7 separate regions of the Homo sapiens genome follow, and all the other regions are linked to region 1. The links come from fine-mapping of genetic effects on gene expression. A gene starts in region 1. Each other region holds a variant in brackets. All regions are shown on one strand. Distances are between the middles of the regions.

The links. PIP is the estimated chance that this variant, and not a neighbour inherited with it, causes the effect. A credible set is the group of variants that fine-mapping cannot tell apart.
Region 2: its variant is the best candidate, but not a certain one, in a credible set for the expression of RESF1 in whole blood (TOPMed, PIP 0.90).
Region 3: its variant is the best candidate, but not a certain one, in a credible set for the expression of RESF1 in B cells (Fairfax 2012, PIP 0.86).
Region 4: its variant is the best candidate, but not a certain one, in a credible set for the expression of RESF1 in NK cells (Gilchrist 2021, PIP 0.79).
Region 5: its variant is the best candidate, but not a certain one, in a credible set for the expression of RESF1 in whole blood (TOPMed, PIP 0.68).
Region 6: its variant is the best candidate, but not a certain one, in a credible set for the expression of RESF1 in whole blood (INTERVAL, PIP 0.79).
Region 7: its variant is the best candidate, but not a certain one, in a credible set for the expression of RESF1 in whole blood (TOPMed, PIP 0.68).

Annotation. Positions count from the first base shown.
Region 1 is chr12:31,956,640-31,961,240 of GRCh38, forward strand. It overlaps RESF1 (retroelement silencing factor 1), which reads left to right and starts at 2,776. Exons shown (of 6, transcript NM_018169.4): 1 at 2,776-2,852; 2 at 4,138-4,232. It overlaps LOC105369725 (a long non-coding RNA gene), which reads right to left and starts at 2,665. Exons shown (of 2, transcript XR_931503.2): 1 at 2,489-2,665; 2 at 1,854-2,165. RefSeq lists enhancers at 398-897, 901-1,694 and a silencer at 2,747-3,086.
Region 2 is chr12:31,740,442-31,745,042 of GRCh38, forward strand. No RefSeq gene overlaps it. Among named protein-coding and RNA genes, the nearest start is that of AMN1-AS1, 13 kb to the left of the region's middle. RefSeq lists a silencer at 2,646-2,735. The variant G/C (reference allele first, on the strand shown) is at 2,638.
Region 3 is chr12:31,990,735-31,995,076 of GRCh38, forward strand. RESF1 (retroelement silencing factor 1) reads left to right here. Exons shown (of 6, transcript NM_018169.4): 6 at 1,644-2,373. The coding sequence ends at 1,801. Among named protein-coding and RNA genes, the nearest start is that of RESF1, 33 kb to the left of the region's middle. RefSeq lists a silencer at 3,154-3,318. The variant A/G (reference allele first, on the strand shown) is at 1,988.
Region 4 is chr12:31,704,361-31,708,961 of GRCh38, forward strand. All of the region lies in intron 2 of AMN1 (antagonist of mitotic exit network 1 homolog), which reads right to left. Among named protein-coding and RNA genes, the nearest start is that of AMN1, 22 kb to the right of the region's middle. The variant C/CA (reference allele first, on the strand shown) is at 1,951.
Region 5 is chr12:31,645,721-31,650,321 of GRCh38, forward strand. All of the region lies in intron 1 of LOC124902913 (a long non-coding RNA gene), which reads right to left. It also overlaps a transcript of ETFBKMT not described here. Among named protein-coding and RNA genes, the nearest start is that of ETFBKMT, 12 kb to the right of the region's middle. The variant A/C (reference allele first, on the strand shown) is at 2,140.
Region 6 is chr12:31,409,498-31,414,098 of GRCh38, forward strand. It overlaps DENND5B (DENN domain containing 5B), which reads right to left. Exons shown (of 21, transcript NM_144973.4): 13 at 3,939-4,067. Among named protein-coding and RNA genes, the nearest start is that of LINC02387, 42 kb to the left of the region's middle. The variant C/T (reference allele first, on the strand shown) is at 1,908.
Region 7 is chr12:31,978,942-31,983,542 of GRCh38, forward strand. It overlaps RESF1 (retroelement silencing factor 1), which reads left to right. Exons shown (of 6, transcript NM_018169.4): 4 at 1,937-4,601. The coding sequence starts at 2,015. Among named protein-coding and RNA genes, the nearest start is that of RESF1, 22 kb to the left of the region's middle. The variant T/C (reference allele first, on the strand shown) is at 2,763.

The sequences.
Region 1 (4,601 bases):
GTGGAGCAGGTGATGGAAAAAGGTTGCTTTACGAGGAAGTTAAGTTTAAAAGTAAAAGGCAAAGATTGACCATACTGACATATTGATTCTTTGAAGAGAAATTTAGAATTCATATCTAACACAACCGTTTTTGCAACAACACACAACCCAAGAAAGCTGGTCTCAATATTATTATTATTATTATTATTATTTTCCGAGACAGGCTCTTACTCTGTCACCCAGGCCGGAGTTCAGTGGCTCAATCTTGGCTCACTGCAACCTCTGCCTCCCAAGCTCAAGTGATCCCCCCATCTCAGCCTCCCAAGTAGCTGGGACTACAGGCGCATGCCACCACTCCTGGCTAATTTTTTTTGTTTTTTGTATATTTTTTGTAGAGATTGGGTTCACCATGTTGGCAAGGCTGCTCTCTCAAACTCCTGGCCTCAAGTGATCCTCCCCAAAGTGCTGGGATTACAAGCATAAGCCACCACGCCTGATCCCCAATCTTTTTTTGTTTGTTTTGTTTCATGAGACAGACTCTTTCTGTGGCCCACGCTGGAGTGCAGTGGCGTGATCTCGGCTCACTGCAACCTCTGCTTCCTGGGTTTAAGCAATTCTCCCGCCTCAGCCTCCCGAGTAGCTGAGAATTACAGGTGCCCACAACCACGCCTGGCTAATTTTTATATTTTTAGTAGAAACAGGGTTTCACCATGTTGGTCACGTTGGTCTCAAACTCCTGATTTCAAGTGATTCACCCACCTCAGCCTCCCAAACTGTCAGGCCTCTGAGCCCAAGCTAAGCCATCATATCCCCTGTGACCTGCACGTATACATCCAGATGGCCTGAAGCAACTGAAGATCCACAAAAGAAGCGAAAATAGCCTTAACTGATGACATTCCACCATTGTGATTTGTTTCTGCCCCATCCTAACAGATCAATGTATTTTGTAATCTCCCCCACCCTTAAGAAGGTTCTTTGTAATTCTCCCCACCCTTAAGAAGGTTCTTTGTAATCTCCCCCACCCTTAAGAAGGTTCTTTGTAATTCTCCCCACCCTTGAGAATGTACTTTGTGAGATCCACCCCCTGCCCGCAAAACATTGTTCCGCGGAGCCTCTCCCAAAACCTATAAGAATTAAAGATAATCCCACCACCCTTTGCTGACTCTCTTTTCGGACTCAGCCCGCCTGCACCCAGGTGAAATAAACAGTCTTGTTGCTCACGCAAAGCTTGTTTGGTGGTCTCTTCACACGGATGCGCGTGACACAAAGTGCTGGGGTTACAGGCCTGAGCCACCACACCTGGCCACCCCCAATCTTTAAGAATATTCTGGCCGGGCGCGGTGGCTCATGCCTGTAATCCCAGCACTTTGGGAGGCTAAGGCGGGCGGATCAAGAGGTCAGGAGATCGAGACCATCCTGGCTAACATGGTGAAACCCCGTCTCTACTAAAATACAAAAAATTAGCCGGGCATGGTGGCGGGCGCCTGTAGTCCCAGCTACTTGGGAGGCTGAGGCAGCAGAATGGCGTGAACCTGGGAGGCGGAGCTTGCAGTGAGCCGAGATCGTGCCACTGCACTCCAGCCTGGGCGACAGAGCGTGACTCCGTCCCCCCCCCAAAAAAGAAAGAATATTCTGTATGTAGTTTTTTTGTTTTGTTTCTGACAGACGCAAACGCACTCTTCTAGTAATGACTAAAGACTTCTTCGTTTAATTCACCAATGAACTAATCTGACAATTTATGTAACAAATAAATTCCTATAAACATAAGCTCCCTTGCCCCTCTCCAGTGGCACAATCTCTGATTTGCCATCCTGGTTGCAACCTTCATTACTAAGTAAACGCTTACGTAAACCTTAATAATGAGATTCGGGCAATATGATTAAATATTGGTTTATTTGAGTGCAAAGTTTGAGGATGGCGACCCGGTAGGACACAGACTCCAAAAGATGGGGGTCAGTGCTTCGAAAGGGAGAAGTTTGAGGGTCGTTTACACAGGCAGGGTCTGGGAAGCTTAACAGGATGTCAACATTTTCCATAGAAGGTTAACGCATAGCAATTTGATTGGTTCAAGGCAGTGTTTCTTTTTGGGAAGGGTCTATTTAACATTCCACATTAAGGATGTAATAGTCAAGCGGTCATTTATCTTATTCAATGCGTATTTTATCTCAGATGCCATCTGGTCTGAGCTGGGAACAAGAAAATAAGGGAGTTAATCTATAACAAAAGGTCGGCAATTAAGAGGTCGTGCTTCGTGATCTGGTCTCCAAAGTCAACTTTCCTCAGGGACTTTCAGAATCCCCAAATAGACTATCCACTTTCTTTCACACTTATTTGCCTCTAACTTGTTGATTTCTTTTTTTTTTTTCTGTTTTTTAAGGGTTAACAATCTCTTGGGTGCACTCTGACTTCCATGCGCTTTATAGAAAAAATTGGTCCTGAGGCCAGCAGCAACAGTCGGTCTCAGGAACTTGTTAGAAATGCACATTTTTCAGCCCCACCCCAAACCTACTGAATCAGCAGTTTTGCTGGTGGTTCTCAATCTCTCTTTAACGTGCCCTCTGGGTGCTGCGGATGCACGCTGAAGGTAGAAGATCGCTGCAGGAGATTTCCGCGTCGGGCAGATGAAAGCGCTCTGCAAGCCCGGGTGTTATCTGCGGGCCGGGTCCGCGGCTTCTCTGGTGGCACTAGGACCGCGGCGGCGCGGCCCTCGCAGCCACCGCCTCGGGCGTGAGGCGGAGCGTAGCTGTTCCTGGATCCTGGGCCTGGCTCCTCGACCCGCCCCTGGAGGCGGACCCCACTTGACTTAAACTCTGGGGCCCGGGAGGCCGCCGGTTTTCTCCCCGCTTGCCGGGGTGGTCCTCTTCCCTTTGTCGGTAAGTGTGAGACGAGCACCCCGAGGTCCCTCCGCCTTCCGGGGTCCGGGCGGGGCGGGGGCCGGGAGCCGGGAGCCAGAGGCACTCGCGGTCCGGGCCTGCGCGCGGCGCAGAGCGCTTTTGTTCTGCGGCAAAGACGCAGTCGCGGGCGGCCCCGGAACCCGGGCCTCGGGCCCCGCCGGCTCGCGCGTCCCGCCGTCCGCCCACCGGAGCTGGGCCGGGCCGCCGCGCTTGCTTCTGCCCGCCGCACCGGGGCCGGCCCTGGGCCTCCGCGGATGCCGAGCCTTGCACCGGAGGGCGGGCCTCGCTGGCTGTTTTCCCTCATTGCCTGGCTCTGCGCGGTAGAGGTCGCGAGTGGCGAAGGCTAGGACGCATTTTGTCGAACTGCGAGGCGCGGCTGGTGAGGCGGGTGGGTATGAGAGCTGCTTATGTTTTTAAGGCTTTCCTGTCGCTGGAGTGAAAAAGAAAAATCTTTTTTTTTTTTTGCTATTTCCCGAGGGTTCTCCTCCTCCCCGGCCCTCTTAAGCCGAAGCCTCCTGGAACAGAATTGCTGTACTGGCATCTATCTCCAAGTGGTCCGCGAACGCTTCTGCGCCGGCGATGGTTTCTGTTCCTCAGCAATAGTTCCTTGAGGCATTTTTAAATGCACAAACGCATACCCATCTTAGGTGTTCTCGAGGGACACGGATTCCCTAAGCAAACGTCCTTAGGGTCCTGAGTTCAGCAGCAAACTTTCGGGGAATCATTTCCGTGAAAACAATTTATTTGTAGTACATCGAGTGCATACTGTCTTAACATAAGGATGTGTATGAGCTTGAGGCGCATTTTCATTTAGTGGCGGGCGGGTGCATTTCAGTAGGCGGGCCGCAGAGCTTGTTTGGGGATTGCATTTTTCTGCTAAATGTGTTAGCTTTAATCATGTTTCAGTCACTGTTAATGTGCATGCATGTTAAGGTTTTAGGTTTTTTCCCCTGTGCAGTCGGATTTTTTTCTGTTTAATATTAATCCAATAAAGACAAGTGCAGAGATAAAGTATTATTGTTTTGCAGTGATACTACAATAGCGGACCTAGAGGAGCGCACATAAATTCTAACTTAAGTGAATGGTATTTTCAGGCCAGACCTAGTTTCTATTTCTGTTACTTAGGACACTTAATAAGAATTCAGTAAACTTAGCATGCTTTCAGTGCAGCCATAAAAGAAAACAGTTTTGCACAGCAGTGTCATATCTAGTAAACACATTAGCATGTGCTCTTTTATTATAAAATGTTTCTTGCTGTCCCTAGGACCAAAGAAGTAAACACTGTGTGGAGAGGGACTGACGTGTTTGGAGGGAAATGGGAATGTACACGATAATTAAAGAGTAAAGTTGTGCTCAACGGTAAGTGTATCACCTCTAAGAAACCCGCCCTGATTTAACCAGGCGGTTATTCACACTCAACTATGGAGTAATTCACCTATTACCGAATAAAATTACTAGCTCAGTGAATCAACATCGGTTTTAAATTAAACTGTGGGTCACAATGGAATTGACAGCAAAGCTTGAGAAGAAATGTTGTTGGCATAGTACTGAAAAATCAGTTGTTAATCTTAGCAAAATAAGGAAAGAGGTCTTTGGTAAGGGAATTGTGGTGGAAGTTACCTGGGCAGAGGTCTGCTTCTGTCTGTGCTGTGTTTATTTGATTGTTTTTATTATATTTTATTACTGTTGGTGGCACATAGGGGAATGTGGCGCAGAGCACCACTCTGG
Region 2 (4,601 bases), 220 kb before region 1:
TTGACTGGGTCCTCTGCTTATGGTCTCAAAAGGCTACAATCGAGCTGTCATCAGGGACTGCAGTCTCACCTGGGTTCAGATGGGGAAGGACTCACTTCCAAGTTCACTCATGTTAATGGCAGAATTCAGTTCCTTGAGGTCGTAGGACTGAGAGCTTCAAGTTTTTTGTTGGCTGTTGGCTGGAGGCTGCCCTCAGCTCTGAGAGGCTGCCTGTATTTCTTGCCATGCAGAGTCCTCTAACATGGCCATCTGCGCCCTCAAAGCTAAACTGGGGGAGGGGGAGAAAGATGGGTGCTACCATCTTATGTAACATGACCCCAATCATGTACACACAATCACATACATCCCATCATCTTTACTGTTTCTTTCAGTTAGAAGCGAGCCACAGATCCTGCCCACACTAAGGGGAAAGGATCACATAAGGGGAGGCAAGGATCGTGGGGCCAACTAAGAGTCTTTCCACCACAAACCACAAAGCCTTCCACTGCAAATATTATTGTGTTTGGTTATGTCCTAGAAAAAAATAAGGTTTTAATCTCACATGAAAAGTCAGAATGCCAGACTGGGCAATATGGGAAAACCTCATCTCTTCCAAATATATATATATATATATCCAGCTGTGGTGGCACATGCCTGTAGTCCCAGCTACTTAGGACGCTGAGGTGAGTGGATCGCTTGAGCCTGGGGGGGGTCAAAGCTGCAATGAGCCAAGACTGTGCCACTGCACTCCAGTGGACAACAGAGTGAGACACTGTCTCAAAAAAAAAAAAAAAAAAAAAAAGAGAGAGAAAAGGAAGGAAGGAGAAGGAAGAGAGGAAGAGAGGAAGCGGGGGAGGGAGGGAGGTCAGAATAAGAGGAGGGAGGTCAGAATAGGATAGTTCCAGGGTTGGTTGTTCAGTGGCTTAATGACATTATAATTCCTGCTCAGAACCTCTGTGATTCCCTTGAGTTTTCCTCTCATGCTTTCAAGATGGCTCTGCAGGTCCAAGCAATACATCCTTGCACTGAGGATGCAAGTTAGGAAAATTCTAGTTCATTGCTTTACTTTGAGCCTCTTATTTGACTTATTCCATTTTACTTGTGAAATACGCATGTGACAGCTGGAATTGGCATTAGACATGTTAGACAGAAAGTAAAATTGAGTATATTTCTGATTCTCAAGCATTTGTTTTTGCCACTGTTTAAGAAATAAGCAATGCATTGTCACATACTAAGCACTCAGTTGTTTGTTGAATGAAATATAACACTGTAGGGTAGGGTAGGAGAACACTAAAGTTCCTGGAGGCAGGTAACATGTACTTGTATTTTTCTCACATCTCTCTTGTTAAGAACACAAAATCTTTGCCTAGAAGAACTCACAGCAGCATCCTCAGTACTATGGCACTTGCTATGATTAAACCAATCATTACCAAGGGAAATGAGATATGACTTAGATCAATCATAATTCATCCCTCAGGATGGGCATGAGTCTGAATACCCCTATAGCACATGGCCATCTGATACCTGAACAAAATCAGGATTCTGTTAAAAAAGAAGAGGAAGGGAGAAGGAATGACTATAAACAACAAGCACCATCCTCCACAGATTCAAGGAAGAATTAAAAGGGGTAGTAAGGTGGTCTCTCTAGAGAGGCAATGTTTTACTTGAGATTTGCCAAGAAATTGTCAGACTTGTGAAATCTGCGGACTAGCAATCCGTGGGGTGGGTAAGGAAGAGCAAATATACTGCTTAGAGGTACAGAGTTTCTTTTTGGGGTGATGAAAATGTTCTAAAATTGATTGTGGTGATAATTGTACAATTCTGTGAATATACTAAAAATATATACTTTAAATGGGTGAATTGTATGGTATATGAATCATACCTTAATAAAGCTGCTATTTAAAAAAAGAATAGTAATGTAATACCTTGAGACAAGACAAGCTTGATATGAATTATAAGAATGGTTTGACTGGGTCAGATTCAGTGAAAAATTTTCATAATAGACCTTTAATTATTGTTAATCTGCTAAAAAACAGTATGGAACTTAAGTACCGAGCTTCTAATGGAAGATAGAGAAATACCCTATATTTTCAGGTGGGATATTTCCTATCGGTGTTTTTTTCCCAGGAATGCAGTTTTCCTAGGCTTCAAGCTGCTCAGAATATGTGGCCTTCAATAGACCTGCAGCCAGGATTAGGTGGGACTTTGCCTCATCTGAAGGGCTTCTTCTTATTTTATTTATCGTAATTTTTTGTAGAGATAGGATCTTAATATATTGCCCAGGCTGGTCTTGAAATCCTGGACTCAAGTGATTCTCCTGCCTCAGCCTCCCAAAGTGTTGGGATTACAGGTGTGAGCCACCGCACCCGACTTACAGGGCTTCTTCTATACTTACTAATTCTCCTAATGTGTGACATCTGGTCTACTACTTAAATTGGTGCTTTTCCATTGGATATAAGCCTTAGCAATAGATATTACCTAATTTTCTCTTACCTTTTTATGGGTGGGGTTATTTTCATTATAATTTTTTTTTCCTGGGTTTGCACAACTGCCAGAAAACATTTTATCAGAGCTAGGTTATGAACATTGCAGGTGGGCCTTTCAACTTCCTGCAGAAGTGCAGAGGTGCAACTGAGCATTCACTAAGAACTGGCACTT[G/C]TCCAAACTGTGCAAAAGAGGGAGTGCAAGTCTGTCTCACACACGTAATTGAGGAAGGAAAAGAAGGCCAGTGTTGCTGAAGCTTAGGGAAGGAGATAAAGACAGAGAGGTAGGCAGGGACTAGATCACATAGTGCCTTGAGAATCATAGAGATTTGGTTACAGCTAAGTGCAATTGGGAGAATGTTGGAGGGTTGCTCTGAACAAGGACATGACAGGATCTGATATGCATTTTTAATAGATTAATTTTGGGGAAAATATATGTAACACAAGTAACTGAAGAGGATGTGTATCTAGATTTTAAAAGGTACTGCAAATCAATATGATGAAAACACACACACACACACAATTGGAAAATCAGCAAAATACTTAAGCAGGCACTTCCCCACAGAGGAAATCTAAATGGTCAAAAGCATATGAAAAATGTTCTGTCTTGTTAATCAACCAGGGAAATACATGTTCGAACTTCCACATGTTGGCCGGGCGCAGTGGCTCACGCCTGTAATCCCAGCACTTTGAGAGGCGGAGGTGGGCGGATCATGAGGTCAAGAGATTGAGACAATCTTGGCCAACATGGTGAAACCCCGCTTCTACTACAAATACAAAAATTAGCCGGGCGTGGTGGCACGCACCTGTAGTCCCAGCTACTTGGGAGGCTGAGGCAAGAAAATTGCTTTAACTTGGGAGGTGGAGGTTGCAGTGTGCCGAGATCGCGCCACTGCACTCCAGCCTGGTGACCTAGCAAGACTCTGCCTCAAAAAAACAAAACAAAAAACGAACTTCCACATGTTAAAACTTGTACAAGGCCGGGCATGGTGGCTCATGCCAGTAATCCCAGCACTTTGGAAGGCCGAGGCTGGCAGATTACGAGGTCAGGAGATTGAGACCATCCTGGCCAACATGGTGAAACTCCATCTCTACTAAAATACAAAATATTAGCTGGGTGTGGTGGCACATGCCTGTAGTCCCAGCTACTCAGGAGGCTGAGGCAGGAGAATCGCCTGAACCCAGGAGGCGGAGGTTGCAGTGGGCCAAGATTGCGCCACTGTACTCCAGCCTGGCAACAGAGCAAGGCTCTGTCTAAAAAAAAAAACAACAACAACAAAACAAGCAACAACAACAAAAAAACTTGTACAAAAGCCAGAGGCAGTAACAGGAGCCTGTAGTCCCAACTACTTTAGAGGCTGAGGCAGGAGGATCACTTAAGCCCAGGAGTTTGAGGTTGTTATATATAAAGGTTCGGTGCCGCAAAAGAAATAGCACTCGAATATAAAATTTTCTTTTTAATTCTCAGCAAGGCAAGGTACTTCAATAGAAGGGTGTGCCCTTACAGATGGAGCAATGGTGAGCGCACACTTGGATAAGGGAGGGGAAGGGGTTCTTATCCCTGACACACGTGGCCCCTGCTGCTGTGTGGTTCCCCTATTGGCTAGGGTTAGACCTCACAGGCTAAACTAATTCCAATTGGCTAATTTAAAGAGAATGACAGGGTGTGTGCTTTGGCAGGAGTCAGGGCAGGGCAGGTAGCAGGTAATCAGAATGAGTTAGGGTGGAGTAGGTGACCAGAATGAGTCAGAGTGGAGTAGGTAATCGAAAAAGGTAGCTTTACGAGGAAGTTAAGTTTAAAAGTAGAAGGCAAATAATTGAACATACTGACATTAATTCTTTGAAAAGAAATTTAGAACTCATATCTAACAAGGCTATGGTGCAGTATGATTATGCCTGTGAATAGCCACTGCACTGCAGCTTGGGGAACATAGCAAGACTCCGTCTCCAAAAAACTCCCCCCAAAAAACTGTACAAGCCACTAGGATGGTAAAAGTAGGAAAAACAATCTGACACTCTCAAGGAACTTTGACAATACCAATGGAAACTCACCCTTTGGTAGAGCATTAAACAGGTTGTAACCATTTTGGAAAAGAAAGGCTGTGCATCTTCAAGTTTATTAGACAGTCTGATATCTAC
Region 3 (4,342 bases), 34 kb after region 1:
GGCCACATGGGCATTTTTTAAATGCCTATTAGGGGCGAGTGAAGCTGGTTCTGGAGAAGGGATCTCTGGGAAATAGTGAATTATATACCTTAGACAAAGAGGCTGGAGAACAGTGAACCAACTATGAAGTGAGAGAAAAATGCCATGAACTCCCAATCTGCTATAAAGAAACATACATCTGGCCTGGTGTGGGGCCCATGTGTGTCATCCCAGCACTTGGGAGGTCAAGGCCGGAGGATGGCTTGAGCCCAGGAGTTTGAGACCAGCTTCGGCAACATCAGGAGATCCCATCTCTACAAATAACTTTTTAAAAAATTAGCTGGGCATAGTGGTGCGCACCTGTGGTCCCAGCTGCTTGGCAGACTGAGGAAGGAGGATCACCTGAGCCCAGGAGTTGAGGCTGCAATAAGCCCTGATGCAGCACTGCACTCCAGCCTGGGCAACAGAGCCAAGACCCTGTCTCAAAAAAAAAAAAACCCACAGGAGAAACAGATGTCTAAATTCAGTAGCAAAGGTTGCAGCAAACTTGAAGTCCTAAGTTAGGGTAAAGAGATGAAGAGGAAATGACAAGAATTTCTTGGAAAGCAACTTAGAGACCCATCTGGGGCTTCAGTGTTACTAATTCTGAAAGAAAGCAAACGAAAAAGTGGAAGACTGCAGCAGATCTAAAGAACTAACAGGACAGAATACTCCACCCATTCAGGTAGAAAAAGACAAAACAAGACCCCATTATTCAGAAGAAAATAGCTGCAGCAGGAATGAAATGTACAGATAGTCCCTGACTTGGCAGTGGTTTGACTTAGGATTTCTTGACTGTGATGGTATGAAAGTGATACACATTCAGTAGAAAGTGTATTTCGCATACCCATACAGCAATTCTGTTTGTTTGTTTGTTTGTTTGTTTTTTGAGACAGTCTCGCTCTGTCACCCAGGCTGGAGTGCAGTCGTGTGATATCGGCTCACTGCAACCTCTGCCCAGCTAATTTTTGTATTTTTAGTCAAAACAGGGTTTCGCCATGTTGGCCAGGCTGGTCTTGAACTGGCTTCATGTGATCTGCTTGCCTTGGCCTCCCAGAGTGCTGGGATTACAGGCGTGAACCACCATACCCAGCCTCAACATATTTTCAATAGGTGATGGGTCATTATGAAAAAAGGACACTGAAGCTAATGTAACACTGAAATGGTCTCAAGAAACAGGAAACTATAGACATGTTTTAGAATATCCAATACATGGCAAGACCAAAATATGAAACCTATCCTTTTCATGTATTGTTTGGGACTGACTCATATTTGTACTCTTTGTATTGCTAATTTACATAGCTGTTTAAAAGATCACATTCATACTAATGATATGCAATGATACATTTTATTGAGCCAAGAGTAAGGTAGAACAGAACAGCCCAGGGCAATGAGGATGGGGCAAGGAGGCAGGAGTAGAAAACAGCCCCCAAAAGAAAGGCAAGATGTCACGTGTATATAACTTACAATTCTATAAGTGAAGAGCTATGGTTCTGAAACTTTTGCTTAACTCCTTGCCTTAATTTTTTATCCCTCCAATATATATTTTCCCTCTGAATTTTGATTATATATTGATCACAGCTAACATTGAGAAATAAAGTAAGTAAAGTTTTTATTTCCCTTAGATAATGTTAATTCAAGACTCTCGAAGAGAAGCTTCAGTGCAGATGGATTTGAGATGCTACAAAACCCAGTAAAAGATTCAAAAGAAATGTTTCAAACCTACAAACAGATGTACCTGGAGAAGAGAAGCAGAAGCCTTGGTAGCAGTCCTGTAAAATAATTACAAGATGTGGTTTTGTAATTGCCACTGGGAAATTTCTTTCCTTTTCTGTTCAAAATATTTCGCTGAAACTAATGAGAAATGCCATGATAAAGATTTCTCAGAGTTTGGTTCCCACTTTCATTGTATTTCATTGAAAGTGCTTAATTAAAATGGCTTGAGAACTTTGGGTAGCCATGTGTAAGA[A/G]ATGGATGGTATTCACCGGGGAAACAAGGTATTTGAATTTCTACTTTATTGAACCAGATTTACCATTATTTTAAAAGGAATGCTTATACAAATCAATTTGAAATTCTACCCATCTTGAGGGAGGACCGTTCCTCAGTTAAGGACTTGTTTATTTAAATGGGACTGTAAATATGTTTTGGTTTCTAAGCTATATTAGCAAAATTTATTTTTCAAAAATGCCCACTGTGATGTGAATGTCAAAATATATTCTTAAGTGTTTTATAACTAATTGTAAACTTTTTTTCAGAAGTCTTATTTTATACTTGTGAAACTGAACACAATTTTGGGACAACGTTTAAACATTACTTTTCATACTTGAAATAAACATTTATTTTTTAAAAAACTAATTTGAAACCTTCACAGCTCAGTTTCTTTTTGGTTTCCTACCTTTAAAAGGACGCATTTTGGAAAGTGCTTTCAAAAGCTGAAATGCGAGGTGGCTTATGCCTGTAATCACAGCACCTTGGGAGGCTGAGGCGGGCGGATCACAAGGTCAGGAGATGGAGACCATCCTGGCTAACACGGTGAAACGCCGTCTCTACTTAAAAAAAAATACAAAAAATTACCAGGACAAGGTGGGAGGCACCTGTAGTCCCAGCTACTCGGGAGGCTGAGGCAGGAGAATGGCGTGAACCCGGGAGGCAGAGCTTGCAGTGCGCCGAGATCGCGCCACTGCACTCCAGCCTGGGCGACAGAGCCAGACTCCTTCTCAAAAAAAAAAAAAAAAAAAAGCTGAAATGTCACAGCAGTTGTGCCAGTAGGTATTTTTAGATTGCGTTCACATGAGAACACAAAAAAATTTACTAGGTTCAGGAAATTTCAAGAAACTGGAAGGCAAGATATAACTTTATTTCTAGTTTTACTTTATGACTACGAGAAAAGGGTTGGAGTTTTTGTTTTGAGACAGGGTCTCACTCTGTCGTCAAGGCTGGAGTACTGCGGTGTAGGATGAATGTTCACTGCAATCACTGCTCCTGGGTTTAAATAATCTTCCCGTCTCTGCCTCATGAGTAGCTGGGACTACAGTGTGCTAATACACCTGGCTAATTTAAAAAAAAATTATTTAATTTGCTAATCTTTGTATTCTAGTGTGCTGCCAAAGTGAGCACATAATTTTGTTTTTTTGTTTGTTTGTTTTTGTTTCTTAATGTTTGGAGAATTTTTGTGGTTTTTTTGTTTGTTCTTTGAGACGTACTCCCGCCCTGTTACCCAGGCTGGAGTGCAATTGCGCGATCTGGGCTCACTGCAACCTCCGCCTCCCGGGTTCAAGCGATTCTCCTGCCTCAGCCTCCAGAGTAGCTGGGATTACAGGCGCCCGCCACCACGCCCAGCTAATTTTTGTATTTTTAGTATAGATGGGGTTTCACCGTGTTGGTCAGGCTGGTCTCGAACTCCTGACCTCAGGTGATCCGCCCACCCCAGCTTCCCAAAGTGCTGGGATTACAAGCATGAGCTACTGGGTCCAGCCTGTTTGTTTTTTTTTGAGACGGAGGCTTGCTCTGTCGCCAAGGCTGGAGTGCAGTGACGCCATCTTGGCTCATTGCAACCTCCGCCTCCCGGGTTCAAGGATTCTCCTGCCGAATAGCTGGAATCACAGGTGCCCGCCACCACGCCCAGCTAATTTTTGTATTTTTAGTAGAGACGGGGTTTCACCATGTTGGTCGTCAGGATGGTCTTGAACTCCTGACCTCGTGATCTGCCTGCCTCAGCCTCCCAAAGTGCTGGGATTACAGGCGTGAGCCATCTTGCCCAACCCTGAGCACATAATTTAAAAATACATACATTTTTGGAGACATGAGATTCTACCCTGTTGTCCAGACTGGTCTTGAACTCCTGGGCTCAAGTAATCCTTTGGCCTTGGCCTCCCAAAGTCCTGGGATTACAGATGTGAGCTACCACGCCCAGAGCATGTTGGTTATTTTTATAAAATCTTAATGTTGTATATATATATATAAAATTTTCATTTGAAAACTATGTACAAGGTAGACCAATGGATTTTAATGAAACATTGCAATTTTTTGTGCTTTTAGCTTTCATATTACAACCAACCTTTAGGAAACAACTACGGTCCTCTGTCATTTAATGACAGGGATATGTTCTGAGAAATACATCTCTAGGTGATTTTTTTTTTTTTTTTTAAATGGAGTCTCATTCTTTTGCCCAGGCTGGAGTGCAGTAGCACGATCTCCACTCACTGCAACTTCCGCCTCCTGGGCTCCAGCAATTTTGCTTCAGCCTCCCGAGTAGCTGGGATTACAGGCACACACCACCATGCCTTGCTAAAGTATTTTTAGTAGAGACAGAGTTTCACCATGT
Region 4 (4,601 bases), 250 kb before region 1:
GATTCTTCTGGTTTTTTATTTGGTTGTTTTGTTTTTTCTTATTGGCTTGGAGGGATTCTTTATATTGTCAAGATAAAAAAGCCCCTAGATTTTCATACATACTGTAAATATTTTTCCAAGTTTTTGACTTTGTTTCTTTTTTTTTTTTCTTCTTGCCATAAGGAAGTCTGTATTTTTATGTAATCAAATCCATCCAACTTTTTTTCTTGGTTTCCAACTTTAGTATCATGTTTAAAAAGGCCTTCTCCATCCAGAGAGTATAAAAAGATTTATGAAATACTTCAAAAACAGCCATCCAAAGATGTGTGTCACTTTGTAATGGATGTTGTATCTGGCTTTTTGAATAATGTCATAAGCAAGACTCTTGTTAAGGATGGAGACTAGAGGGAGAGTACCCAGAAAAATCATGTCTTGTTTTTCTATCTCATTCACCCTCTTCACCCCTCCTTTTAAATTCAGCTAAAATTAGGCTTAAAAAATGGTAAGGATTGCCATCAAACAAAAACCTAAGTCACTGAAGGATAAGCTAAAGGGATAGTAAGAAATGTGGATGGTGGAAAAGTGAAGAAAACCACCATTTTTCTACAGTGTCATTATGGTTCATCTATGAGTCACATATAACATTACATACTTCAACAGAACCATCAACAATAAGAACGTGGAGATATTATTCTACTTCCACAGAGCCAAGCAAACTACACCACTAAGGTATCTATGTTCAAATGCAAGCTAACATGAAGAAAATAAAGCATTATAATAAAGATATATCAGGTTAATGCAGAAGAAACATTAAAAACAGGTTAAAGTGCAATTCCAATGTAAAGTCACAGGGTTAGTCACATGCTCTAGCATGTAGGCTGGGCACTGTGGCTCACACTTATAATCCTAGATCTTTGGGAGGCCAAGGTGGGCAGATTGCTTGAGCCCAGAGGTTCAAGACCAGCCTGGGCAACATGGTGAAACCCTGTCTCTAAAAAAAATACAAAAATTAGCTGGATGTGGTAGTGGGTGCCTGTAGTCCTAGCTACTCAGGAGGCTGAGGTGGGAGGATCACCTGAGCCCAGGAGGTTGAGGCTGCAGTGAGCCATGATTATGCACTCTACCCTGGGTGACAGAGTGAGACCCTGTCTCAAAAAAAAAACAACAAACAAGCAAAAACCACAGAAAAACATATGCTGGAGTGCTATCATCAGACCTTGCTTCCTTTTGATTACAGGCTTTAGGCAGAAGGTGAAGTGAAGTCAGAGCAATTGTGGAGTCCTAATTAGGGAAAAGGAGTCAGGCTGGCAGGACAAGGGGAAAGCAAATAAGCTACAGGTCTGCCTTTCTTCATGGTCCAGAACATATAAACAAAAAGAAGAAGCAGATAAGCTATAGGTCTGCCTTTCTTTATGGCCCAGAACATATAGCCCTCCTGTGCAGACAACATACAAAACTCATAAACCTCCTGCTTATCACCAAACACTTTGATCTATCATCAAACACCTCGGCTGACAGAAGGATGCAAGTTAGTTCCCTCCTACCTTGGTGCTGTCAATCAGCCCAAGTTCCATTCTATAAAATCCCCAGCAAGCCTTTGTCTCCTGGCAGTTGGGTCCTCTCTTGCTGGTTCTGCCCGTTGCTCCCTTGCAATGTATTTTCATATTTTCTCTAATAAATCTGCCTTTCTTGGCCGGGCGCGGTGGCTCACGCCTGTAATCCCAGCACTTTGGGAGGCTGAGGCGGGCAGATCACAAGGTCAGGAGATCGAGACCATCCTGGCTAACATGGTGAAACCCCGTCTCTACTAAAAATACAAAAAATTAGCTGGGTGTGGTGGCGGGCGCCTGTAGTCCCAGCTACTCAGGAGGCTGAGGCAGGAGAATGGCGTGAACCTGGGAGGCAGAGGTTGCAGTGAGCCAAGATCATGCCACTGCGCTCCAGCCTGGGTGAAACAGCAAGACTCCGTCT[C/CA]AAAAAAAAAAAAAAAAAAAAAAAAATCTGCCTTTCTTTACCTACAACTGTCTTGGTAAATTCTTTTACCACCATCCCACCAGCCTGGATAGATGCCGCTCACCCCCAACAGCAATTGGCAGTTCTAGTCTCTGCAGACTAGATGGTGATGGCTGCAGAGTGGTGGTGGCTGCAAACCCAAAGACAATATTTAAATGTAAGTAGTGTAGAAACTACTAACTAGCATTTTCACTTTTTGAAACACAAATAGCAAAAATACAAAAGATAACACAGGAGTAGTATCGAAGGAAATTATCTACTCTGCTATTTAATAACCTTTAAAATCAGAGGCTGAAGGTTAAGCCCTAATCTCACGGGCTGTTTAGCAGAACAAAGAGTGATTAACCATCTTTTTCTAGTGCTTGGGGCTCTCTGCCTTGGAGCTCATCACTCCAGCCCCTCTCCAGGCCTCCACCCCCTATGTCAGCTTAGTAGGGCCGAAACAGACTTGGGTCTGGCCTCCTTTACTCTTACCACTACCAGAGAGTATACAGAGATATGTTCACAGGCCAAAACAAGACATCTAGAGAGCACCACTATTTCAAAAGAAAAACAAAGATTACTGATTCCATCAGGAGCAGAGGAATTAGAACAGAGAGGCCAAATATATTAATAAGCATAATAATATGCTAAAAGAAATAAGAAAAGATTAATAAGATAAAACGAAACCATAAAAAGGTGAATTGGAAATATTAAATATGAAAAATATAGCAGTTGAAAAAAGAACAGTATAGATGAGAAGAGTGATTTTTTAACTACTGGTCATTATCCATGAATGGATTACAAAATCAGTTTAGCAGACTGTGATCAATATTTTTTCAGTAAAATAAGACTAAATAGAATAAAATTAAATAGAAAAGACCAAAATGTACTATACATTATACTGTTACACCTAAGTGTGGTTTGTGTACTACAGTCACAATGTAACGTATATTTCTTATTGTGAGTCTTGATCAAAAAGTTTTAAACTTTTTGAAAACACGGAGGTCAAGGGTACAGGTACCATGAAGACAAGTGTGTATGGAAGGCTAATGGGAGCTGACCAGAACAACACCATTTTGTTCCTGAATGTCATTCTGCAACTGCTTGACTGTAGAACGTACTTGCTGATGCTGCAGATGAAATTGCTGCCACTTCTGAAAAGACTATGCTATGCTGATGACTGAACTTTTTCCAAACCCCTGAATCAAGGACTTCTGCCTAGAAACCCTTATTCTAACTAATGAATTGTTTGATAACCCTCTCCCACCTTTCTCTTTAAAAGACCTCATATATCTCTTAGGACATATGAATTAAATAGTTAGGACATGATTTCAGATGCCTCTGGAATCTGTGTTCCTTGAATTCAATTCTAAAACCACCAATAAACCTTTTTGCTTGGATTTTCAGTCTCCACGACTCTGGTTGACACAAGAGAAGTAACTGAGACAATGGTAGAAGATGTTTTAGGAACTATTACATGTTGCGGGAAGTCAGGGACCCCAAATGGAGGGACCAGCTGGAGCCATGGCAGAGGAACATAAATTGTGAAGATTTCATGGACATTTATCACTTCCCAAATAATGCTTTCATAATTTCTTATGCCTGTCTTTATTTTAATCTCTTAATCCTATTATCTTCATAAACTGAGGATGTACGTCACCTCTGGACCACTGTGATGATTGCATTAACTGTACAAATTGATTGTAAAACATGTGTTTGAACAATATGAAATCAGTGCACCTTGAAAAAGAACAGAATAACAGCAATTTTAGCGAACAAGGGAAGACGACCATAAGGTCTGACTGCCTGCGGGGTCAGGCAAAAAGAGCCATATTTTTCTTCTTGCAGAGAGCCTATAAACAGACGTGCAAGTAGGAGAGATATTGCTAAATTCTTTTCCTAGCAAGGAATATTAAGACCCTAGGGAAAGAATTGCATTCCTGGGGGGAGGTCTATAAATGGCCACTCTGGGAGTGTCTGTCCTATGGGAGTGTCTGTCCTATGCGGTTGAGATAAGGACTGAGATACACCCTGGTCTCCTGCAGTACCCTCAGGCTTACTAGGATTGGGAAACCCCAGCCCTGGTAAATTTGAGGTCAGACTGGTTCTCTGCTCTCGAACCGTTTTCTGTTAAGATGTTTATCAAGACAATACGTGCACTGCTGAACATAGACCCTTATCAGGAGTTCTGATTTTGTCCTTGCCCTGTTTCCTCAGAAGCATGTGATCTTTGCTCTGCTTTTTGCCCTTTAAAGCATGTGACCTACTCCCTGTTCGTACATTCCTCCCCTTTTGAAATCCTTAATAAAAACTTGCTGGTTTTGTGGCTCAGGTGGGCATCACAGTCCTACCGATATGTGATGTCACCCCCGGCGGCCCAGCTGTAAAATTCCTCTCTTTGTACTCTTTCTCTTTATTTCTCAGACCAGCCGACACTTAGGAAAAATAGAAAGAACCTACATTGAAATATTGGGGGCAGGTTCCTCTGATAATTACATATGGACATTTTGGTTATCTGGAGGGAAAAAAACAAACCCTTATACTTTATAATATTCTAAAATGTGGGCCAGGCATGGTGGCTCACACCTGTAATCCCAGCATTTTGAGAGGCTGAGGCGGATGGATCACTT
Region 5 (4,601 bases), 310 kb before region 1:
AAAATAATTAGGTAGAAATAGGCTGGAGTCCAGCAGGGGAAGACAAACTAATCTTTCCTGGACTACATTTTTACATGGATAAAAATTTTTGCCACTGCAACTCTAAGCAGCACTCAGTATCTTTGAGATATTAGTGATGTTTTTCTCTGATGTTCTTTTAGCTCCTGGGGTCACTGTGGGCTAAGAGAGGTGGAGACAGGCTTTGTGCAACGCTGCCTTGTCCCCCTGCTCAGAGGCAGATGTGACTTAATAGGAAGAATCCTAGAGGCCTTCAGATGCTGTAGAGAAGATTCATGTTTGATGAGAGAGAGCCTGGATGACATGAAAGTTGTTGTTTTTTTCCAGAGAAAAGGAAAGAGACATAACATTCCCCCTACCCGCCCAAGCATCAGCTTCCTCTTCTGAACTGGTTGCTGTGGAGATTAAAAACTTTGTACACAGCACATTGCACACAGGCGATACGCGGTTGTTAGAATCTCATTACCATTGACAATGGCTAATTATAGATGTGAACATCTAAATGTGTCTGAAGGGGACAGAGAAGTTTGGTAAGGATAACTTACAATCTTTCCATCTTTTGTTTTGTTTTGTTTTGTTTTGTTGTGTTTTAGAGAGGGTCTTGCAATGTCGCCCAGGCTGGAGTGCAGTGGCATGATCTTGGCTCACTGCAGCCTCCACCTCCCGGGTTCAAATAATTTTCAAATCTCTGCCTCCAAAGTAGCTGGGATTACAGGCACATGACACCACGCCCAGCTCATTTTTGTATTTTTAGTAGAGATGGGGTTTCACCATGTTGGCCAGGCTGGTCTTGACCTCCTGATGTCACGTGGTCTGCCCACCCTGTCCTCCCAAAGTGCTGGGATTACAGGCGTGAGCCACTTCGCCCAGCCTTTTTTTGTTTCGTTTTGTTTCTTAGAGACAGCATCTTGCTCTGTCCTTCAAGCTAAAGTGCAGTGGCTTGAACATGGCTACTGCAGCATCAACCTCCTGGGCTCAGGTGATCCTCCTGCCTCAGCCTCCTGAGTAGCTGGGATGACAGGTGTGCACCACCATGCTCAGCTAGTTCTTACAATTTTTGTAGAGACCAGGTTTCATTATGTTGCCCAGGCTGGAATTTTCGTATTTTTTGTCACAAAGCCTCGCTATGTTGCCCAGGCTGGTTTCAAACTCCTGGCTTCAAACAGTCCTCACACCTTAGCCTCCCTAAGGATCTTGTGCTGAGATTACAGGCATGATCCTCCATCTTTTTATATTGTGTAATTATAATGCAGAGTAGTTTGAGCTTGGTGATGAGAAAGCTTTCTTTTCGCCTTCCTGCCACTCATTGTTTGTATACTTTATTTTCAAAGGCCATTAACATGTCGACAGCCACTGAGCTGCTGTTTTTGTTTTATTGTTCCCTTGACCACACACCAACCAACCATGACTCCCAATTAATATTCTTAATGGAATCCAAGCCTCTAAGCCTCACAGTCCAGGCCCTCCACCAGCCTGCCTCACCCTATCCTCATTTCATCTCCCGCAACCTGGCTCCGGTGAGTGCTCTTCGTAGTCAGACTGGGCTGTTTATTTTCTGCAATGAACTTGTAAATCCCTGCCTTTGGCTCGTGCTTGAAATAGCTTCCTCTTTCTCATTACCGAGTCTACGTCCTGTGTTTAAGTGCAGCTCTGGAACCAGACGACATGTGTGTCATCCCAACTCTACTGCCAGCTATTTATGAGCCCTCAGGCAAGTTACTGAACCTTCCTGTGACTTCACTTCTTTACCTCTAAAACAGAGGTCATAATAGTATACCTACATCCTATGCTTATTTTGAAGCTTAAAGAGGTAATTTAGGGGCTGGGCGCGTGTAATCCCAGCACTTTGTGGGACTGAGGCGGGTGGATCACCTGAGGTCAGGAGTTCGAGATCAGCCTGGCCAACATGGCAAAACCCCGTCTCTACTAAAAATACAAAAATTAGCCAGGTGTGGTGGCAGGTGCCTGTAATCCCAGCTACTCGGGAAGCTGGGACAGGAGAATCACGTGAACCCGGGAGGCGAAGGTTGCAGTGAGCCAAGATCACGCCACTGCACTCCAGCCTTGGTGACAGAGGGAGACTCCATCTCAAAACAAAACCAAAGAAAACAAACAAACAAA[A/C]AAAAAACAAGTGTTGATAAGAATGTGGAGAAATTGGAACCTTCATAAATTGCTGGTGAGAATGTAAAATTGTGCAGTCACTTTGGAAGACAGTCTGGCAATTCCTAAATAATTTGAGCATAGAGTTACTATATCACCCAGCACTTCCATTCCTAGGTATATACCCAAGTGAATTGAAAGCATATGTCTCCACATAAATGTGTACATTAATGTTTATAGTGGCATTATTCATAATAGCCAGAAAGTGGAAACCACCTTAATGTTTATCACAGATGAATGGAGAAACACAATATAGTACTGAATATTCACATAATGGAATATTATTTAGCCACAAAAGGAATGTAGTACAATTGTCCTTCAGTATCCACAGGGGATTCGTTTCAGGACCCCTGAGGATATCAAAATCCATGGATGCTTGAGTTCCTTATATAAAATGATGTAGTATTTGCATAATTACTTTAAATCATCTGTAGATTATAATGTTGAATATGATGTAAATAGTTTTTTTTTTTTTTTTTTTGAGATGGAGTCTCGCTCTTTTGCCCAGGCTGGAGTGCAATGGCACCATCTCAGTTGACTGCAACCTCCGCCTCCCAGGTTCAAGCGATTCTCCTGCCTCAGCCTCCTGAGTAGCCGGGATTATAGGCATGGACCACCATGCCCAGCTAATTTTTATATTTTTAGTAGAGATGGGTTTCTTTTTTTTTTTTTTTTTTTTTTTTGAGACGGAGTCTCGCTGTCTCCCAGGCTGGAGTTCAGTGGCGCAATCTCGGCTCACTGCAAGCTCTGCCTCCCGGGTTCTAGCCATTCTCCTGCCTCAGCCTCCCAGGTAGCTGGGGCTACAGGGGCCCACCACCACGCCTGGCTAAGTTTTTGTATTTTTAGTAGAGACAGGGTTTCACCATGTTAGCCAGGATGGTCTCGATCTCCTGACCTTGTGATCTGCCCACCTTGGCCTCCCAAAGTGCTGGGATTACAGGCGTGAGCCACCGCGCCCAGCCCTGTGACGGGGTTTCACCATGTTGGTCAGGCTGGTCCTGAACTCCTGACCTTGTGATCCGCCTGCCTCAGCCTCCCAAAGTGCTGGGATTACAGGCATGAGCCACCACGCCCGACCAATAGTTGTATTTTTTTTGGAGACGGAGTCTCGCTTTGTCACCTAGGCTGGAGTGCAGTGGCGTGCAATTGGCTCATGCCAACCTCTGCCTCAGCCTCCCAAGTAGCTGGGATTACAGGCGCCCACCACCATGCCGGGCTAATGTTTTGTATTTTAGTAGAGACGGGGTTTCACCGTGTTGCCCAGGCTGGAGATAGTTGTTATATTTTTAGGAAATAATGACAAGAAAAAAAAGTCTATACATGCTGTTCAGTACAGATACAAATTTTTTTCCCCAATTTTTTCAATCTGCGGTTGGTTGAATCTACGGATGTGAAACCTACAGATACAGAGGTCTGACTGTACTTATTCATTCTACAACATGAATGAAGAAAACATTATGCTCAATGAAAGAGTCAGTCACAAAGGACTGCATATGATTCCACTCACAGGCATCCCTCCTTTTACTGTGCTTGGCTTTATTGTGCCTCACAGATATTGTGAATTTTACAAATTGAACGTTTGTGGTACCCCTGTGTCGGGCTAGTCTATTGGTGCCATTTTTTTTTCAAACAGAGTGTGCTTACTTCGTGTTTCTGTGTCACATTTTGGTAATCCTCACAGTATTTAAATTTTTTTCATTAATATTAAAAGTAATGGCCAAAACAACAATTACTTTTGCACCAACCTAATATGATTATCTGTTCTGGTGATCTGTGATCATAGATCTTTGATGTTTCTATTGTAATTGTTTTGGAGCACCCATGAAAGATGGTGAACTTAATGGATAAATGTGTGTGTTCTTTTCCTTTTCTTTTTTTTTTTTGAGACAGAATCTCTCTCCGTAGCGAAGTACAATGGCATGATCTCAGCTTACTGCAACCTCCACCTCCCAAGTTCAAGCAATTCTCCTGCCTCAGCCCCCTGAGTAGCTGGGATTACAGGCACGTACCACCACACCCAGCTAATTTATGTATTTTTAGTAGAGGTGGGGTTTTGCCATATTGGCCAGGTTGGTCTCGAACTCCTGGCCTCAAGTGATCCACCTGCCTCCCAAAGTGCTGGGATTACAGGCATGAGCCACTGCACTCAGCCCTGCTGTCAGAGGCCTTTGTACCAGAGCAACTCCATCTCGAATAGGGGCTGGTTAACCTGAGGCTGAAACCTGCTGGGCTACATTTCCAGTAAGTTAAGGTATTCTTAGTCACAGAATGAGATAGGAGGTCGCTGTAAAGACTTTGCTGATCAAACAGGTTGCAGTAAGGAAGCCAACCAAAACCCACCAAAACCAAGATGGCAACGAGAGTGATCTCCAGTCGTCCTCACTGCTACACTCCCACCAGTGCCATGACAGTTTACAAATGCT
Region 6 (4,601 bases), 550 kb before region 1:
AACAGAGTTTCTCTCTTGTTGCCCAGGCTGGAGTGCAATGGTGCAATCTCAGCTCACTGCAAACTCTGCCTCCTGGGTTCAAGTGATTCTCCTGCCTCAGCCTCATGAGTAGCTGGGATTACAGGCATGTGCCACCACGCCAGGCTAATTTTTGTATTTTTAGTAGGGATGGGGTTTCACCATGTTGGCCAGGCTGGTCTCCAACTCCTGACCTCAGGTGATCCATCTGCCTCGGCCTCCCAAAGTGCTGGGATTACAGGCATGAGCCACCATGCCCGGCCATTTTTTTTCTTTTGTTTCTTTCCCATTATGTCTTTTTTCCAGGATGGGGTCTCGCTATATTGCCCAGGCTGGTCTTGAACTCTTGGACTCAAGAAATCCTCCTGCCTCAGTCTCCCAAAATGTTGGGATTATAGGCATGAGCCACTGGGGCTGGCCCTCATTAAGCCTTGACTAAAAATAAATAGCTCCTCTTAGACAAACACCTTTAATCTTGAAAAAATAGATTCATTCTATTTCAATTCATAAAAATGGATATATAAACAGTTAATAAAACACTTTTAACCTAATAATTAAGGAAAAAATGCATCTATTTTATCTATCAAACTAATAAAGACTTAAAAGTGATGACCAGTGTTGACAAGGAAGAAATGAATGCCATTCTCACAGTTGGTGAGACTGAAAATTTCAGGAAAGCAATTCAGGTAACAATTACTTTAAACCAATCATACCCCTTGACTCATCAATTTTACTTTTAGGATTCAGTCCTAAAGAAACAGATGAAATGGGGCAAAGATTTCATTAAACACTTACATTTAAGCACTTTCCCAAGTGTTTTATAGGTATTAATACATTTAATTCTCACTCTATGAGGTAAGTCTATTAGTGCCTTTTTATTATTTATTTATTTATTTATTTTTCTTGAGATGAGGTCTCGTTCTATAACCCAGGTTGCTGGAGTGCAGCGATGCAGTAACAGCTCGCTGCAGCCTTGACCTCCTGGGCTTGAGTGTGCCTCCCACCTCAGCCTCCCAAGCTGCTGGGACCACAGGTGCACGCTACCACACTCAACTAATTTTTTATTTTTAGTAGAGATGGGGTCTCACTATATTGCCCAGGCTGGTCTTGAACTCCCAGGCTCAAGCAATCCTCCCACTTTGGCCTCTCAAAGTGCTGGGATTACAGGAGTGAGCCACCACACCCAGCCTAGTGTCATTTTACAGATGGGGAAAAGAGAGATACAGGAAAGTTAAATATTTTGTCCGAGGTCATTCAAACACTAACTAGAGAAGGCAATATTTGAACACAAGCATTCAGACTTCAGATTTTAAACTCTTCTGATACGGTGAAATGTTTATGGTACACTGTTAAGCTAATAAAAAGGATGATATTGAATCGCACATATAGTGTATCTTAATAAGAGAACATGCATAGAAGAAAAGTACAGAAGAAAATGTGAAATACTTAGTGTTCTTTATATAGCAGGATTGTAAGTGATTATCATTTTCCTCTTTGTACTTTGGCCACTATGAGCATAAATCACTTTTTTTTTTTTTTTTTGAGACAGTTTTGCTCTTATTGCCCAGGCTAGAGTGCAATGGCACGATCTTGGCTCACCGCAACCTCTCGTCTCCCAGGCTCAAGCGATTCTCCTGCCTCAGCCTCCAAGTAGCTGGGATTACAGGCATGTGCCACCACGCCTGGCTAATTTTGTATTTTTAGTAGAGATGGGGTTTCTCTACGTTGGTCAGGCTAGTCTCGAACTCCTGATCTCTGGTGATCCACCCGCCTCGGCCTCCCAAACTGTAGGATTACAGCCATGAGCCAACACGCCCGGCCTTTTTTTTTTTTTTTTTTTTTTTGAGACAGAGTCTCGCTTTGTTACCAGGCTGGATGGAGTGCAGTGG[C/T]GCGATCTCGGCTCACTGCAACTTCCGCCTCCTGGGTTCAAGTGATTCTCCTGCCTCTGCCTCCCAAGTAGCTGGGATTATAGGCATGCGCCACGACACCCAGCTAATTTTTGTATTTTTAGTAGAGACGGGGTTTCACCATGTTAGCCAGGATGGTCTCGATCTCCTGACCTCATGATCTGCCTGCCTCGGCCTCCCAAAGTGCTGGGATTACAGGTGTGAGCCACTGCGCCCAGCCAATAACTTTTTGTAATTGGAAAAAAAAACCACGCCAGTTTTAAGAAAACAAGGTCAGATTCACAGGCTATATGCAACACTTCATGCTTTATCAAACCTACTGTTTGGACATTAAAACTCATCTGAAAATGCTCCAGGGGGTATGTAATCCAAGTGTGATATATACAAATACAAAACTACAAAAAGCACTGGAACTCTAATAGGCTATCTTGTTTGAGGTCTTTGTTGAATTCTCTGCCTAACTTTGCTCCTTAGAAGTCAAAGTCCTTAGCCTTCAAATTAGCACTAATGTAAATATAAGGGCAATATATTTCATCCAAGACAGCTTCTTTTTTTTGTTTTTGTTTTTTGAGACAGGGTCTCGCTCTGTTGCCCAAGCTGGAGTGCAGTGGCCCAATACTGGCTCAAATGATTCTCCTGATTCAGCCTCCAAGTAGCTGGGATTACAGGTGCCTGCCACCATGCCCGGTTAATTTTTTTATTTTTTGTAGAGACAGGGTTGTGCCATGTTGGCCAGGCTGGTCTCGAACTCCTGACCTCAAGTGATCTGCCCACCTTGGCCTCCCAAAGTGTTGGGATTACAGGTGTGAGCCACTGCACCTGACCTCGAAGAGGGTTTCTTGATAGAGTAAACAGAAGAAATTAAAAGTTAACAATTAATTGACATGTACTTGACTGGTTTCCCGGCTCTAAACCAGTGGTTCCCAACCTTTTTGGCGCCAGGGACCTGTTTCATGGAAGATAATGTTCCCATGGCTGTCGCAGGGGCTGGGGAGGGGGAGGTGGATTCAGAATAAAATTGTTGCACCTCATATCATCAGTCATTAGAGTCTCATAAGGAGCACATAACCTAGATCCCTCACATGCGCAGTTCACAATAGGGTTTATGCTCCTTTGAGAATCTAATGCTGCTGATCTGACAGGAGGCGGAGCTTAGGCGGTAATGCTTGCTTGCCCTCGGCTCATCTCCTGCTGTGCAGCCCTGGTTCCTAACAGACCACAGACCAGTACTGGTCCATGGCCCAAGGGCTGGGAACCCTTGCCCTAAACTAGTGAATGCAAGGCTCTCAGAAGAAGCCCTTTACTGGGACCTCCTCACAGAACTTTATTATTTCTTTCTTTTTTTACTCCAGGTTTTATCTGTATACAACCTGTATACAGGTTTTACAATATAAGGTTTATACAAAATAATATAAGGTTTATATAAATTCATCCGATCTTTTGGATGTTACTGTCAGCTTGTGTGAACTAGCCAGCTTTTTGCCTGATTCTGGCAGAGCAATCCGGCCTTTTTTTTTTGAGATGGTCTTGCACTGTCGCCCAGACTGGAGCGCAGTGACATGATCTCAGCTCACTGCAACCTCCACCTCCCAAGTTCAAGTGATTCTCCTGCCTCAGCCTCCTGAATAGCCATGACTACAGGTGTGCGGCACCATGCCCTGCTAACTTATTTTTTGTAGAGACGGGGTTTCACCATGTTACCCAGGCTGGTCTTGAATTCCTGGACTCAAGTGATCCTCCCACCTTGGCCTCCCAAAATGTTAGGATTACAGGCAATGGCCACCATGCCCAACTGCAATCTGGCCTTTGGCTGTTAAATTTGGTGTGTCCCCCCAAAACGATCAAGTATTACATCAAAACAGTTTTCAAAGCACACGCCTGTTAGATAAAGAAGAATGCATGTGCACAGGATACAGCACTTCATACTGAAGAAGCCAGTTTGTCAGTTTATGCAACTTGTTTTGTATGCACATGGATTATAGAAACAGAAATGTATCAAAGATGGTATCTTACTTGGTGAGTGGTTGGTTAGAAAGCAACTGCTTAAGATGCTGGGACAAGAGCTTCTTTTCTAGAGACAGTCTTATCCACGCCCGAGCTCGTCCAACATCAGTCTTGATCTCACTCATGTTTTGAATATGCCTAAAGAATAGTGGCAACAGCAAAGATGTAGATTTTAAGGATAACCCTGACTAGAAAAGAAGTAAAGAGTGAACAGTACTGGGCACAGAAAGGTTTATACTTAAAGGGAGCAATGGATAATATACAATTGATGTTGATTAAATCTTTGAAGGTTCCATCTGAATCATGAAGTTAGTCTCACATCATAATTGCCATTACAACACAAGCACACGGACAATGTGGTAAGATAAAGCATTTAACACTTATTCACTCTTTCAGGCTTTATTATGTCCTTGTGGCAGACTCATAGATATCTGTAAATAAGAATTTGGTTATTCCTGATGCTCCAAAAAAAGTAATGAAACAGGGTGAATACTCAAGTTTCTTTTCAAAATAACTGTTCTATAGCATAATTAAATATCAGTCACAACTTTAATCCACTGAATTACTTTTCAAGTTGCACTGGACAACATATGGAAAATATGAAATCTTACTTTCTATGGCATTAGAGAAAATAAGCCAGACTGCATTGATAATCTTTAATTGTTTAATTAT
Region 7 (4,601 bases), 22 kb after region 1:
ACGGAGTCTAGCTCTGTCACCCAGGCTGGAGTGCAGTGGCGCCATCTGGGCTCACTGCAAGCTCCGCCTACCGGGTTCTCACCATTCTCCTGCCTCAGCCTTCTGAGTAGCTGGGACTACAGGCACCTGCCACCACACCTGGCTAATTTTTTGTATTTTTAGTAGAGACGGGGTTTCACTGTGTTAGCCAGGATGGTCTCGATCTCCTGACCTCATGATCCGCCCACCTTGGCCTCCCAAAATGCTGGGATTACAGGCGTGAGCCACTGCACCTGGCCCCACAGTACTTCTGACACCAGATGTGTGGGAATTTTTTCCCAACTGACCAATTCTCTCCACATACCAACTGGGTGGCTTGTGATTTGATTCAGTTCTGACACTGTCTACCTGATGTTACCATCAGAACCCACAAGTTAAAGGGCTCAGTCCTACAAGACTGCCCCCACTTGAAGCTAGTCACAAGTCCAGGTTTGTACTTCTGACCAACTGGCTATAAAGCAAACAAGGTATGCTTTCTCTGAGGTCACTACCTTCCCAGCACTTCAGTGTGTTCTGTTCACCAGCCCAGAAGCTCGGCTCATCACATCTCAATGTTCAAGAGTTTTGTTTTTTAAAAAAAACAGCCTTACTCTGTCACCCAGGCTGGAGTGGAGTGGTGCCACCATGGCTCACTGCAGCCTCAACCCCCAGGCTCAGATGATCCTCCCTACACTGCCTTCTGTTTTCTGAGTAGGTGGCTGGGACTACGGGCATGCACCACCATGACGGGGTAATTTTTTTTTTTTTTTAATTTTCAGTAGAGACAGGGTTTCACTATGTTTCCCAGGCTGGTCTTGAACTCCTGGGCTCAAGAGATCTTCCTGCCTCAGCCTCACAGACTGCTGGGATTACAGGCATGAGCCACCACACCCAGCCAAGACTTTTTATAGAGTCCAATCTCCAGCTCCCCCCACCACTTTATGGAGGTCAGTGGTTAGAACTAAAAGTTCCAACCGTCTAATACTTGGTTTTCCTGGTGACCACCAGCTGTATCCTGATGGTATCTAGGGGCCCCCACTTTAAGTCACCTTAGTAGCATAGACTCAGGTATGTGCATACAGAGTTCATTATGAATAACAAAAGATATTTATGAATTAGTGTTTGCTTATGCCAGAAATTTTCTTTTCCTTTTTTTTTTTTTTTTTTTTGAAACAGAGTCTTCACTCTGTCACCCAGACTAGAGTGCAGTGGTGTGATCTTGGCTTACTGTATCCTCCACCTCCCAGGTTCAAGTGATTCTTGTGCATCAGCCTCCTGAGTAGCTGGGATTACAGGTGTGCACCACCACACCCCGCTAATTTTTGTATTTTTAGTAAAGATGGGGTTTGGCATGTTAGCCAGGCTGGTCTCAAACTCTTGGCCTCAGGTGATCCACCTGCCTCTGCCTCCCAAAGTGCTAGGATTACAGGCATGAGCCACCGCACCCGGCCTTATGCCAGAAATTTACTGAGTTCATTAAGGTAACCTTGAATAGCCCTGGGGAGTTTAGACTTTGCGAATGAACAATGAGAATGTTTTTAACCATATGTTTGAACTTCCCTTTTTTTTTAAATTCTCATTTTTATTGTCATGTTAGCTTTTTTAAAAAATGCAGTTAGCATGGATTACTTAGAAGAAAGTCTGTTAAAAATAAGTAAAAACAGAAGGTGATTGGCATTTAAATGTAACAAAAAGCTAGCTGTCATTGTGTGGAATGAATTTCTGTTAAACACGTTAGAAATTTCATTGACACTTGCCTTATTTATTGTTGTATCCTCTATTGCTCCTCTTCTTCCCAAATTAAAGATGAGGCTGCTCTGAAGATTCAGTAATTAGGATGGACAGTCAGCTACTAATTTTCTTAGATATTCTATCTAGGCAAAACAGCATTTTAATAAAATATCTTTATTTCTTACAGATTCCTGACATTCAGACAACTGACTTGTAACTGACTTATAACTGACTTGTAATACACTGCTACTATATCAAACCGACAATGAATTGGAATGAAAAACCAAAGAGTGCTACATTACCACCACTGTATCCTAAAAGCCAGCCACCTTTTTTGCACCAGTCTTTAATAAACCAAATTACCACAACATCTCAGAGTTCTTTCAGCTATCCTGGAAGTAACCAAGAAGCATGCATGTATCCCGGTAATTCAAATCCAATTTCACAGCCACTGCTGAATATCCAAAATTATCCTCAACAAATTTCTGTTTCTGATATGCATAATGGGACAGTTGTGGCCTCACACACTTCAGTAGAAAGAATAACATATGCAAATGTTAATGGACCCAAACAACTAACTCACAATTTGCAGATGTCTTCAGGAGTTACCCAAAACGTATGGTTGAACTCACCAATGAGGAATCCTGTGCATTCTCATATAGGGGCAACTGTATCTCATCAAACTGATTTTGGAGCTAACGTACCCAATATGCCGGCACTACAGAGTCAACTGATAACATCAGATACCTATTCTATGCAAATGCAGATGATCCCTTCTAATTCTACACGACTTCCTGTAGCTTACCAAGGAAATCAGGGACTTAACCAGTCTTTTTCAGAGCAACAGGTTGATTGGACACAACAGTGTATATCTAAGGGACTGACTTACCCAGATTACAGACCACCTCCAAAGCTATACCGTTACTCACCACAAAGCTTTTTACCAGATTCTACCATTCAAAAACAAAACTTTATACCACATACATCATTGCAAGTTAAAAATAGTCAGCTTC[T/C]AAATTCTGTATTAACTTTACCATCAAGGCAGACCTCAGCTGTACCATCACAGCAGTATGCCACGCAAACTGACAAAAGACCTCCTCCTCCTCCTTACAACTGTAGATATGGAAGCCAGCCTTTGCAAAGTACTCAGCATATTACTAAACACTTGTCTATGGAAGTTCCTCAGAGTCGAGAAATGCTGTCATCTGAAATAAGGACCAGCTTTCAACAGCAGTGGCAAAACCCTAATGAAAATGTCAGCACAATTGGAAATTTCACTAACTTGAAAGTAAATACCAACAGCAAACAGCCTTTTAACAGTCCCATTAGATCTTCTGTGGATGGTGTTCAGACTCTTGCTCAAACTAATGAAGAGAAAATAATGGATTCTTGCAATCCAACTTCAAATCAAGTACTGGACACAAGTGTTGCAAAAGAAAAGCTAGTAAGGGATATTAAAACATTAGTAGAGATAAAACAGAAGTTTTCAGAACTTGCAAGGAAAATTAAAATCAATAAAGATCTTTTGATGGCAGCAGGTTGTATTAAAATGACTAATACTTCTTATAGTGAACCAGCTCAGAATTCTAAATTGTCTCTAAAACAAACTGCCAAAATCCAGTCTGGACCCCAGATAACTCCAGTAATGCCAGAGAATGCAGAGAGACAAACACCAACAGTAGTGGAATCTGCAGAAACAAATAAGACTCAATGTATGTTGAATTCTGACATTCAGGAAGTCAATTGCAGAAGGTTTAACCAAGTTGATTCTGTTTTACCAAATCCTGTCTATTCTGAAAAGCGGCCAATGCCAGACTCATCTCATGATGTGAAAGTTCTCACTTCAAAGACATCAGCTGTTGAGATGACCCAGGCAGTATTGAATACTCAGCTTTCATCAGAAAATGTTACCAAAGTTGAGCAAAATTCACCAGCAGTTTGTGAAACAATTTCTGTTCCCAAGTCCATGTCCACTGAGGAATATAAATCAAAAATTCAAAATGAAAATATGCTACTTCTCGCTTTGCTTTCACAGGCACGTAAGACTCAGAAGACAGTATTAAAAGATGCTAATCAAACTATTCAGGATTCTAAACCAGACAGTTGTGAAATGAATCCAAATACCCAAATGACTGGTAACCAACTGAATTTGAAGAACATGGAAACTCCAAGTACTTCTAATGTAAGTGGCAGGGTTTTGGACAACTCCTTTTGCAGTGGACAAGAATCCTCAACAAAAGGAATGCCTGCTAAAAGTGACAGTAGCTGTTCCATGGAAGTGCTAGCAACCTGTCTTTCCCTGTGGAAAAAGCAACCTTCAGATACTGCAAAAGAAAAGGAGTGTGATAAACTCAGAACAAACACAACAGCAGTTGGAATTTCAAAGCCTGCTAACATCCACGTTAAGAGTCCTTGTTCAGTTGTGGGAAATTCAAATTCTCAGAATAAAATAAGTAATCCCTCACAGCAGACAGCTTTGTCGATGGTAATGCACAATTATGAGTCTTCAGGTATAAATATAACAAAGGGAACAGAACTTCAGATAGCTGTAGTGTCACCGTTAGTTCTGTCAGAGGTCAAAACATTGTCTGTCAAAGGAATAACACCTGCAGTGTTACCTGAAACAGTGTATCCCGTTATTAAAGAAGGCAGTGTTTGTAGTTTACAAAATCAATTGGCAGAAAATGCAAAGGCAACTGCTGCTTTGAAAGTTGATGTTAGTGGACCAGTAGCAAGTACAGCAACATCAACCAAGATTTTTCCACTAACTCAGAAGGAAAAGCAGAATGAGTCAACTAATGGTAATTCAGAAGTCACACCTAATGTCAATCAAGGAAAGCATAACAAATTAG